Linked DNA regions of Homo sapiens: region 2 is linked to region 1. Evidence: fine-mapped expression QTL. A gene starts in region 1. The other region holds a variant in brackets. All regions are shown on one strand. Distances are between the middles of the regions. Region 1 holds the start of WDR1 (WD repeat domain 1). Region 2 has its middle 27 kb from the start of WDR1.

The links. PIP is the estimated chance that this variant, and not a neighbour inherited with it, causes the effect.
Region 2: its variant is the best candidate, but not a certain one, in a credible set for the expression of WDR1 in whole blood (TOPMed, PIP 0.86).

What each region holds. Positions count from the first base shown.
Region 1 is chr4:10,114,412-10,119,778 of GRCh38, reverse strand. It overlaps WDR1 (WD repeat domain 1), which reads left to right and starts at 2,980. Exons shown (of 15, transcript NM_017491.5): 1 at 2,980-3,128; 2 at 3,545-3,666. The coding sequence starts at 3,113. LOC124900666 (a long non-coding RNA gene) reads right to left here and starts at 2,690. Exons shown (of 2, transcript XR_007058030.1): 1 at 561-2,690; 2 at 302-452. It also overlaps the pseudogene RNA5SP155. RefSeq lists enhancers at 1,479-1,568, 1,649-1,748, 3,519-3,668, 3,319-4,123 and silencers at 2,669-2,788, 2,799-3,208, 3,289-3,438.
Region 2 is chr4:10,141,061-10,146,427 of GRCh38, reverse strand. No RefSeq gene overlaps it. Among named protein-coding and RNA genes, the nearest start is that of WDR1, 27 kb to the right of the region's middle. The variant A/G (reference allele first, on the strand shown) is at 2,905.

The DNA.
Region 1 (5,367 bases):
GATACACGAAGGCATGAGTGGTGACTAGGGGAGCCCAACGAATAGGCTAGACCCACAGTAAAGACGGTTCAAGTGTTAAAGCTCCCACAGCTGACAACACCAAACTGAGCTCGCGCCCCACAGGGAAAATCCTGGAACACCCTGGTGTTTCCCATTTTCCTTTCACATCCTTCAGATTTCCTGCCACGTTCATATAGACTCAAGTGACTACGAACAAACAGCTCCCCCACCACCACCATAAAGCCTCTGCAGCTCCAACATGTAACTTTCAAGCTAAAAATAAGCTGTAGAGCCCAGCAGCTGGGAGTTTGGATATGTTTTACTCAAGTTCGACTGTTTAGTTTTCAGTGTCAACTCCAGCAAGGCTTTATGCACGAGTGTAAAGGTTACCAGCTTGCAAGAGCTTGAAGTTGGTCCTTCGTTTTCTTAATCTTGTTACACGAATGCACTACCTGTGAATGCAATTATACCATTTGTTTTAAGGGTCTCAAGGTGATTTGATGAGTTCTAAGTTATCAAAGCAGATGCAGCGGCCTACAAGCCGGGCCTGCGTATCTTACTTTAGGAATCTGTTTTGTACATTCTCCACGGCTCCTCAGTTCGCAGAGCTACTTTCATATCCGTTATTTCCTGATTAACAGTTGTGGGTGGGGAGTGGGGTCATCCCTAGGAGCATCTTCCAGGTGTCAGGGTTATTCCTGAGAGTTAAAGTTAGGGAACGCGGGAATGAGAAGCAGTGTTTGCAAGGGGTTGAAGTTGCAATTTAAAATGAGACCGGTGACACTCATCAACTAACATTTGAGCAATTAAGTACTTCTGAAGGACACAGGAGTCAGCCAAGTAGATCTCAGGTAAGAGTTTCAGGAAAACACCCTCCGAAGCCAGTACCCAAGGCAAAGATGATACAGATGAGGGGAGGCGGACAACGGAGTCTAAGTGACCCGGAGACTGTCATCCAGGACCCTAATGGGCCGTTTTCAAGACTAGCTTTTACTTCATGAAACTTGGAGCCCCTACAGACAAGCTGAGGAATATTTTACTTCGGATGGATCACTCAGCTACCTGGAGAACACACAAGGTTAGGAAGAATAGGAGACAGGCAACATGGCCACTAACCCAGGTGAGCCACGAGAGACTGCTCTACAGAAGTAGGTAGCAAGAGACTAACCTTGATACAACCTTAAGCAGAACAGACCTTTCAGAGAAGCAGGAACCGCTCACAGCGTGGGTTTCAGAGTTTTTAGCTACCCGCAAGTACTTTGGTTTCTCCCACTTTTACCACCCTCCTAGCCCCCAGAGCCCCAATGGAAAACTTGTACCCACGCTACTGAAAGACGAGACTAGAAGCTTGGACACTTCACATTCCCTGCTCTCCCTTCCACAATTGAGCCACTGCCCTGGTTTTAGAAGTGGGGCTTGTTTTGCTCTGAAGTAACCCTTAACGTCCTTAGAAGTAGCAGCTCCCCTACCCCTCTCCCCACGCCTTTGCCTTTTAAAAACCTTAACTTTTGAGAGAGAGAAACAGCACAAGTTCAGGCCCAGCAGAGTAACCCCTACGTTGTTGCCAGCAACTACTTCAAGGGCAGTTAACCGTGCTTAAAGACGCCAAAAGCATCCATCTCCCGCTTACAACAACATTTAGCTACCCCCCACCCACGTACTTTGCTTTCTCCCACTTTTACAACCCTCCCACCCCCAGAGCCCCGAGGGAAAGCTTGTACCCATTCTACTGAAAGATGAGACTAGAAACTTGTACACTTCACAGCGCCTGCTCTCCAGCTGAGCCACTACCCGGGTTTTACAAGTGGGGCTTGTTTTGCTTTCTTAGGAAATAACCTTTAACTTCCTTAAAAGCAGCAGCGCCCCCACCCCCACTTTTGCCTTTCAAAAGCTAAACTTTTGAGAAAAAGCACGAGTTCAGGCCTAACAAAGAGTAACCCTTACGTTCTTGTTGCCAGTAACTACTTCAAGAAAAAGCACTTAACCGTGCTTAGAGAAAGACGCCAACAGCATTCCTCTTCCACTTACAACAACATTCAGCTACCCGCCCGCACCCCGCCAAATACTTTGCTTTCTCCCACTTTTACAACCCTCCCAGCCCCCAGAGCCCCAAGGGGAAAGCTTGTACCCATCCTACTGAAAGATGAGACTAGAAACTTGGACACTTTACAGCCCCTGCTCTCCCGCCACAACTGAGCCACTACCCTGGTTTTAGGAGTGAGACTTGTTTTGTTTAGGAAATAACCTTTAACTTCCTTAAGACCGACAGCTCCCCCATCCCCCACGCCTTTTTTGCCTTTCAAAAGCTCAACTTTTGAGAGAAAAAGCACGAGTTCAGGCCCAACAAAGAGTAACCCCTACGTTCTTGTTGCCAGCAACTACTTCAAGCAAGGGCACTTAACCGTACTTTAAGAAGACGTAAAAAGCATCCCTCTCCTGCTTACAAAACCCGAGCAGGAGGACTGGCGGCTGGGCAACGCCCGGGACCGGTCAAAAAGGAGAGGCCGGGGAGCGCCCGCCACGCAACGCGGTCACAGGTACAGAGAGGTTTTTCCAGACCCCCACCAAAGCCCGCCAGTACTTTCAGCGTCTTTAAGACCCCCCCGCAAATAAACTTCCTACAGCCCAGCTTCTCCTACAAGCTAGCAACAGAAAGGCACCCACCCCCCGACTCCCAGAAGCATTCTGACGCGGCTGCTTGTCTGCGCCGCCTTTTCAAGGGCCCGCGGGGCGTGCTATACGTCACTTCCGGGGCGGGGCGAGCAAGGCGGAGGCGGGGCCGGGGCCGGCGGGGGAGGGGAGCGCCAGGTCCGCGCAGGCTCGCCGGGACCGCAGCCGCCGAGCCGAGCGCTTGACTATATATGGTCAAAGCTGGGGGCGAGCCGCGCGCGGGACCGCGCTTCCGGGTTCGGGGCGTCCGCAACCACAGCGCGCAGGGCAGGCGCGAGCTGGCCTCTGAGCCCCGGCCTCGGACCGCCCACTCCACTCCCGGCACGCCCGGTGCCGCCTTCCGGCTCCAGTCCCCGGGCTCGGCCTCGGCGAGGTGTAATTCGCAGCGCGGGCCGGCCCCGGAGGCTCTCGGCGAGCGCGGCGCGGTAACAAGTGGGCGAGGATGCCGTACGAGATCAGTAAGTGCCGCGGCGCGGGGCCCCCGAGCGGCCGCCGCGCTGCCCCGGCCCCGGTCCCCGGCCCCTAGGCGCCGTGCGGGTGGCGGGGGAGTCCTCGGCGCGGGGGAGGGGTGCGGGCGCCGGCCGGAGGCGTGGCGGGGCCGCCCTCGGTGGTGCAGGGCGGGACCCCCGACGGGGGGTGCGCCCCCAAGTTGGCGCCGTGGGCCGAGCCGGAGGAGCCCCGCTGCCCCCAAGGGCCTGGCCCGGGGCGCGGACCAGGAAGTCGCGCGGTTCCTGGCGCTCGTGGAAAGTGGAGGCCGCCCTCCCGGCGCAGTCAACAGGTGACCGGCCGAGACCGGTCCGGGGCTCCTTCTCCCTTCTGTCCCCGCCGTCCCCGCCCTGCCCTGACATGCCCCGCCGCATTTGTGTCTCCGCAGAGAAGGTGTTCGCCAGCCTCCCGCAGGTGGAGAGGGGCGTCTCCAAGATCATCGGCGGCGACCCTAAGGGCAACAATTTTCTGTACACCAATGGAAAGTGCGTCATCCTAAGGAACATCGACGTGAGTACCCCCTACCCCGGGCGCGGTTCTGCTCCGGAGCCACCTTGGGATGGGATAATTCGCCTTCCTCTCCACTTCTCACCTCCTGCCCATTGGCCCGGGGAGGGTGAGGGCGCCACGCCCCCTCTACCGGGAGCCACACCTCGGAGCCCCGGAAGCCGGCCTCAGATTCACCCAGGTCCTTGTCTGCTCCTTCTTGATGAGGAAACTGAGTCTTAGTTCGTTTCTGTCTACGGTCATAGCACCCTGAAAGCGCCGGATCGCCTCTGATCTTGGAAGCTAAGCACGGTCAGGCCTGGTTAGTACGTGGATGGGAGATTAGATTAGTTCATTCCTTAAAAGCAAGGGCTCCGGATTTGAGGGATCAGACTGACCCGGTCGGCCGCTGCGTGACCTTGAGAAGATTGGCGATTTGGGCATCTCTGAGCCCCAGTTTTCTCGTCTGTAAAACAGATGATGAGATGATGACCACTCTCGCTTCGCCTGCTGGCTGGGCAGATGGAATGAATGAGCTGCTGGCGTCCCTCAAGCCCAGCGGTGCCTGGTGCACTTTGAGCCCTTGCTGAATGGAATGGCACTCAGCTAACTCGCTGTTAATACCCTGGTCTTCCAGTATGGCAGAGCCCGGAAAAACACCCGGGCCTCTGGGCCAGCCAGATCTGCCACCATGGATCTAAGCCCCAAAGCAAAAACAGGAAGCAGTGTTTTCCCATGAATCATTCTCTGCAAGCCTCCGGTACCCAGGCTGAAAAGGCTTCTAGAGCCAGCTCCTTGGGAAATCCTTGCAAATTCATGTTATTCCTCTGTAATTGTTGGGGTGACCCAGTCTGTCAGTCTCCCTCCCTTCCTGGGTTACACGCTTAAATTTTGCTTTTCCCTTCCTCAGCCTGAGTGATGGAATTGGTGGGGTGGGAGTTGGAGGTGCCGGCCCGGCCATTGGGTGATTTCTCCTGTGCTGTGCTTAGTGGGGGCGGCTGGCACAAAGATGTATGTTTTGATTGATGCCATAGGCATACAAGGGTTGTCAACTTAAAGTCAGCCTGATTTCCCTTGGTAGGTTGGGACTGTTGATCGGACACACTTGCCCTCCAGGAGGCCAGCAACTGGCTGAGGGAATGAAGGGGTCTCTGGGTCTCAGTTTCCTTCTCTGTGAAAGGAGAAGCCTCTTGGTCCGAAGAGCTGCTGGCTCTGCCCGCATCTGTCTCGTTAACCCAGGCAGTCGCTGCTGTTCCTCTGCTGGAAGACAGAGCTCTACCTGCCCTGGATTGCTGGGCCCCTCAAATGAGGGGGTGGGCGGGTGTGAATGTGCTTTGAAGGTGCTAACAACTTGCTAGTCACACAGATTCCTAGAAAGCCGAAGGGCCTTGCTTAGAACTGGAGAAAATCACCAGGGATCTAATGGTAATGATCTGGAAGTCTCCGAAGGCAGGTCCTGAGGCTTTTGAGAAAATAAAAATTGAGACAACCCTAAAGAGATATTTAGTAGTTTGGCAAATAAAATCCACTAACACGTCCTCGGATACAGAGCAGTAGGATATTTCGTTTTGCCCCTAACCAGGCCTTCCCTGTCGTTGCAGTCCACATTGACTTCCAGGGAGGGGGCCTCACATAAAGTACCTGCTGTGCATCTGGCCCTGTGATAGCTTCTTAAACTGTAGCATCTCTTTCCACCCCACATGGGTCCGTTACTCTAAAGAGGAG
Region 2 (5,367 bases), 27 kb before region 1:
CCATCAGTACATATTAATAGGAAGGCTAGCAATGTAGTCTTTGTCCTCAGGTTAACCCTTCTCATCTCTACCCCCATCCAATCCACAGGAATCTGGATTGGCATTTCACGGGAGATCTTGCAGGGCTATTATTGCCATAAGTCACACTTGGCAATTAGGAAGTAACAAGTGCTCACGGGATAAACACTCCTATGCAAGAATGAGGGAGAAGCCTGCAGAAACCCCAGGGCCTACAATATTAGTGACGTTTTCAGGCGTTTGATTCCCACACCAACTTCTGTTGTACCTACAACCCCTCTCAAAGCTCATAGCTCTAACCTCCTTGGGAATTCTTAAGCAAGTTAGAAAAGGAAAAGTTAGAGTCAGGGTTTATAGATGGATTTGGCTTATTTTGAGCGCTAAATATAAACCACTCCAACACTATGCAGAGGGCACCGTAAGAAACGGACCACGTCTTCCCACTGAGGATTTAAATTCACCTGATTGTCTCTTATAAGAAGTTTAAGGAAAGATACTGAATCATATGCATTAAACAGACTGGCTGTCCAGGCCCTAGGAGATTAGAAGATAAGTCAACAAGATCTGGAGAAGAGGCATAAAGAGGAACCCATGGGAATGGGGAGGAACCCATGGGAATGGGCAGGAAACCTATATAGGCCAAGTCATAGGTCGGTCAGAGCCTGGCATGAAGCTCCCACAGGATGCATTTAGTCAGGTGCACGGGACGCATTTAGTCAGGTGCACGGGACGCATTTAGTCAGGTGCACGGGACGCATTTAGTCAGGTGCACGGGACGCATTTAGTCAGGTGCACGGGACGCATTTAGTCAGGTGCACGGGACGCATTTAGTCAGGTGCACGGGACGCATTTAGTCAGGTGCACGGGACGCATTTAGTCAGGTGCACGGGACGCATTTAGTCAGGTGCACGGGACGCATTTAGTCAGGTGCACGGGATGCATTTAGTCAGGTGCACGGGATGACTTATAGCCAGGTGTAACTCGGCCACCCGAGCGCTCCTAGAATAGGCCCATTGACAGCCATCCAACTCCATGGTCCTGACCTGTAACAGACTTCAATTAAGACCTCTATAAAGCCACCATCCCTTAGACAAATCCACCACCCAATCCCTATTCAAGACACAACATGCTGCTCAGTAGGGAGTAGTCTGCCAGCCTTAGTCAGTCCCTCCAAGGGCAGCCCACAGCCATGAACTAGCCAAACCAGCAGTCCTACCCATCTGTGACCTGGAACCACCTTAATGAGATGCTGCCTCTGGAGCTCCCCGACAGGCTCAGTCAAGCTTTACATCCTAGTCTGACCTCTGCCCGATCCTGCTTCCTTCCCCTTTTCACAGGTTTTAAATCTATTACACGTTTTAGACAAACTCTTCCAGTCTTGACTCAGCACCTCCAAGAGCTCAACTGCACCATCTCCATGAACTATTCCACAGCCGACCCAACCTGGCTCAAGGGGGAAAGAAGACTGGCTTGTGATGGCCTCTTCCATAGCCTACCCTTGGTTCACCAGCAGTTTCGAGGCAGTTTGCTAACAAGAAACCCAGTCTGGAACTAGCATATTTGAGTTGCAGTATTTTGGACAGATGTCCTATACTATTTATCTAGTAGCAAGAGTATAGGTCTGGATCCAAGGAGAAATTTCTCCCTCACAACCCACAATGCTCAGGAGGGAGACCATTCATGTTCCATCCCTGCAAGGTTAGTTCTGGCAGGCTAAGACACTGCAGTCCTAGACACTTCCACCAGGGAACAAAAGCAGTGCCACCAGGTTATTCTGAGCTCCTTTGCCTGGAGATCAGGGGTTGCTGATACAGGGAGGAAAGTATATGGGATGTGGGTGAGTCACTAGGGCACTTTTTGGAGCTTCCCAGTGGCTAGGCTTCACAATGGCCATAACCTGACCAGACCAGGATCTCAGACCACTTAGGAACAAAAGACTTTGGTCACCTAAACCAGTCAAGTGTTGGCCAGCTGTGATGTAGTTCGCAGAAGATACAGTGACTATCAACTACATCTTAGAATGACAGTCCTTACAGACCCGATTTGAAACCATAGCTGCCCATCACTTGCAGATCTGACAACATGTCACACACCACCTTCACAGAACTGTCTGGCTGTGAGCATGCTTACCTACTAAGGGCTCTAGCTGTTAGCTCATGTTCCTTTTGGGGTGGCCCCAAGCCAACATTGAGCTGAGCCATTTCCACCTAATGTGGGATTCAAATTGAGGATTATCTTGCTCCAAAGCTCCCTGCTGGACTGGCAAAATTGTCAGGTTCAATTATGATGGGACAGCTTCCCTTTTCTTAAATCGTAGATCTTTTGTATTCCTAATTTAGTGCATATACTTTCCAGACAATTCAACCACACAACCACCATGAGCCATGAGTGTCAGTGGATGTAACGTGGTCCAAGCTGGGAAGTCAGATTCAGCACTGCCTCCTCCCCTACCAACCTGGAAGAACCTTGGCTCTTGGCGAGAAGCAGCTACTAGCACAAAGATGGGGACCACACTGACAAGGCAGCCTCACACCTTCTGACGCTGCACACGGGTCCCCTGCATGCCTGTCCCTCCATGAGTATCAGTAGGCTCCCTTTTCAAAGTTTGGACATCACAGTGAGTTAAGTTTGAGAGGCAGAATCAACACCAAGAAAGTGTCCTGGGGAGCTGTGAGGATATGCTGTCACATTCCGGCGGTTGACTCCTTTACTGAGACTCATCTGTGTGAAATGAGTCGGTGAGGAAGATCAATCAGCCTCGACCAATACAATCTGTACAACCTAAGGTGATCTGGCCTATTCTGCCCAAGCAGTTCAGTCATGAACCACCTGAAGAAGTGGAACCACCAACTCAAAGTCAAGATTCTTCACCTGCTCAGGAGAGAG[A/G]GGACGACGGAGCATCTGCAGCTCAAAGCCCTGAGCTGAAAGCTGATTGCCAGGAACTGGTTCAAAGACTGGGTATGAGCATGGAGATGATCCTGATGTGAAGGGGATGTGCCTACTAAACCCCAGAGCCTGGGAAACTGCCAGAAGGTGAAAAGCAATCAGCGTTAAAAGACATGCTGAAATGATGCGGGCTGCTATGTTGGGAATTTGTTCATTCAAAGTTCTCTCAGTTTACAGCCTTCCGGGAGGGGGGAAAAATAGTCTCCAGAGGAGCTGCCCTGCAGAATTTGCTACTGGGTGGGATAATTTATGGTACGCATAGATATTGTCACTTTGCCACAGCATTAACCATTGTGGTGGTTAACACTGAAGTGTCAACTTGAAGGAGGCAAACTATTGTTCCTGAGTATATCTGTGAGGGTGTTGCCAGATAAAAATTTGAGTCAGTGGGCTGCGAAAACCAGACCCAACCCTTCTCATCTGTTGGGCACAATCTAATCAGCTGCCAGCAAATATAAAGCAGGCAGGAAAAATGAAACGGTGAGACTGACCTAGACCCCCAGCCTACATCTTTGTCCCATGCTGGATGCTTCCTAACCTCTCAAACATCGGACTAAGTTCTTCAGTTGAGACTTGGACTGGCTCTGCTCCTCAAGCTTGCAGACAGCCTATTGGGGATCTTATGGTTGTGTAAGTTAATAAACTCCCCTTTATATGTGTGTATCCATCCTATTCTGTTCCTCTAGGAAACCCTGACTAGTATAGCCACCATTATGCGAGTGGTCGGTCACTGACACTTTGGATTTTCAGTTAAGGGAGAGAAAGCTAGTATGTTTAGATAGAACGGCAAGTGGCCAGAGGCATTCCCAAACATTCTGCAGAGACTATCTGGATAGTTTCTTGTTGCCCCCTTGACTTGGTCAACTGCTCACTTGTCCTCACACCTGAGGATCCTTTTATGGTGCCCTCAGGCAGTCAGTGAGATATCAGCCTACAGCTGTTTGCCAAATTCTTGGCAAGGATTCCCAACACCTTGCCCCTCAGGCTTCTAAGGAGGTCTCACCCATGGAATCTTGATTGAATTTCCAAGCCAAACCTCCCATGCTTGGATCTGATGTAAAGATAGTCTTCCAAGCAAAACCAGCTGCCTGGCAAGTTGAACTCAAGTCTTCAGAGATTTAGACCAACAGTAGGGGAACTCTGGATAGAAAGACCCAGATCCTTGCAAGAGCCTGGGAAGTGAAACCTAGGTGTGGGCCACTGTGCAGCATGCTTAATCTTTTATATATCAGAGGTGTCAGTAACTATTTATACTTGATTCAGATCACTACTGGAAGCCAGTGGTGTGGACAGTCAGTCGAAGTCGAGATTTTGTGATCTAGCCCTATAGACACTAAAAGATTCATAACCAAGTTCAAGTGTGGCAACTACCTTATGGATGGCCACACAAACTCGAATATGATCACTTGGAGTCACCACCCCTTTACTGCATGTTTACTTCTGCCTTTGCCAAGTGAGATTTTACAATCCTGGCTCCTATGTTTCTGAATTAAGATGTTGAATAAAAATGTGAAACACCTGTGCCAGAGGTCACTTAATATTGAGATATGCATGCAACAAGACCAAGGAAATGCATTTCTACTCAGCAGAGCCCCTAACCCAGGAAACAGACACCCGAGTGTGGAGCTCTGGCTCACATGGGCCAAGATGCCAGTCTCTCGTGGCTCAGTGATGTCACTCCCAAGTGAGAGTCACTGCCTGTGTCTCAGGATACAAGCCCCTCTTTCTAAAGGACAATAAGATAGACTCCCCAGTGCCATCCTTAAGATCCATCCTTGAGTCCCCAGAGCGCTAGGGGCTTTCTTTCCATCCTGGACACTGGCTGAGGGGAGTCCTTTGGCGTCCCCACCTGGTGGCCACGAGGCAGCACATCAAGACAAGGAAATCTGCTTGGGAGCTTGACAGTCTGACAACCCCCACCCCTCCCCCAGGGAGGTCCTGTGCCCGTGACAAAGATGTGAATCTTTGCAAGTCAACCCTTCTGGGAAAGGGGGCACAGACAACCTGTTAGAAAGTGAGCCAAGCTTGAATTTCGAATAAGGGATGGCAGGGCCACACAATCAGCATAGGTAGCAGGCTGTGGCTCAGAAGGGGCACAGTGACAGACACGGGTCACAGAGCAGCGCCTCCAGGGGCTCAGCCTGGAAGACTCCCTTTTACCATCAAGAGGTCAGGAGGAGTTATTGCCTCTGTGGCTATCTTTAGGTTCACTATGCACAGAATTGCCTGTTTCCTGATGTAATAGCTCTTAGTAAATGGTGGTTCAAGGGAAGTTATGTACGGTTATGCTAGTGGGGGAAGGAATAACAAAAAGGTCAGTTGTGAGAGACAGGCATTGATTGAAGTATACCGAAGAACCCGACCAGAGTCACTTCCTGGGACAGCTCCCCCTATCCCCAGTCC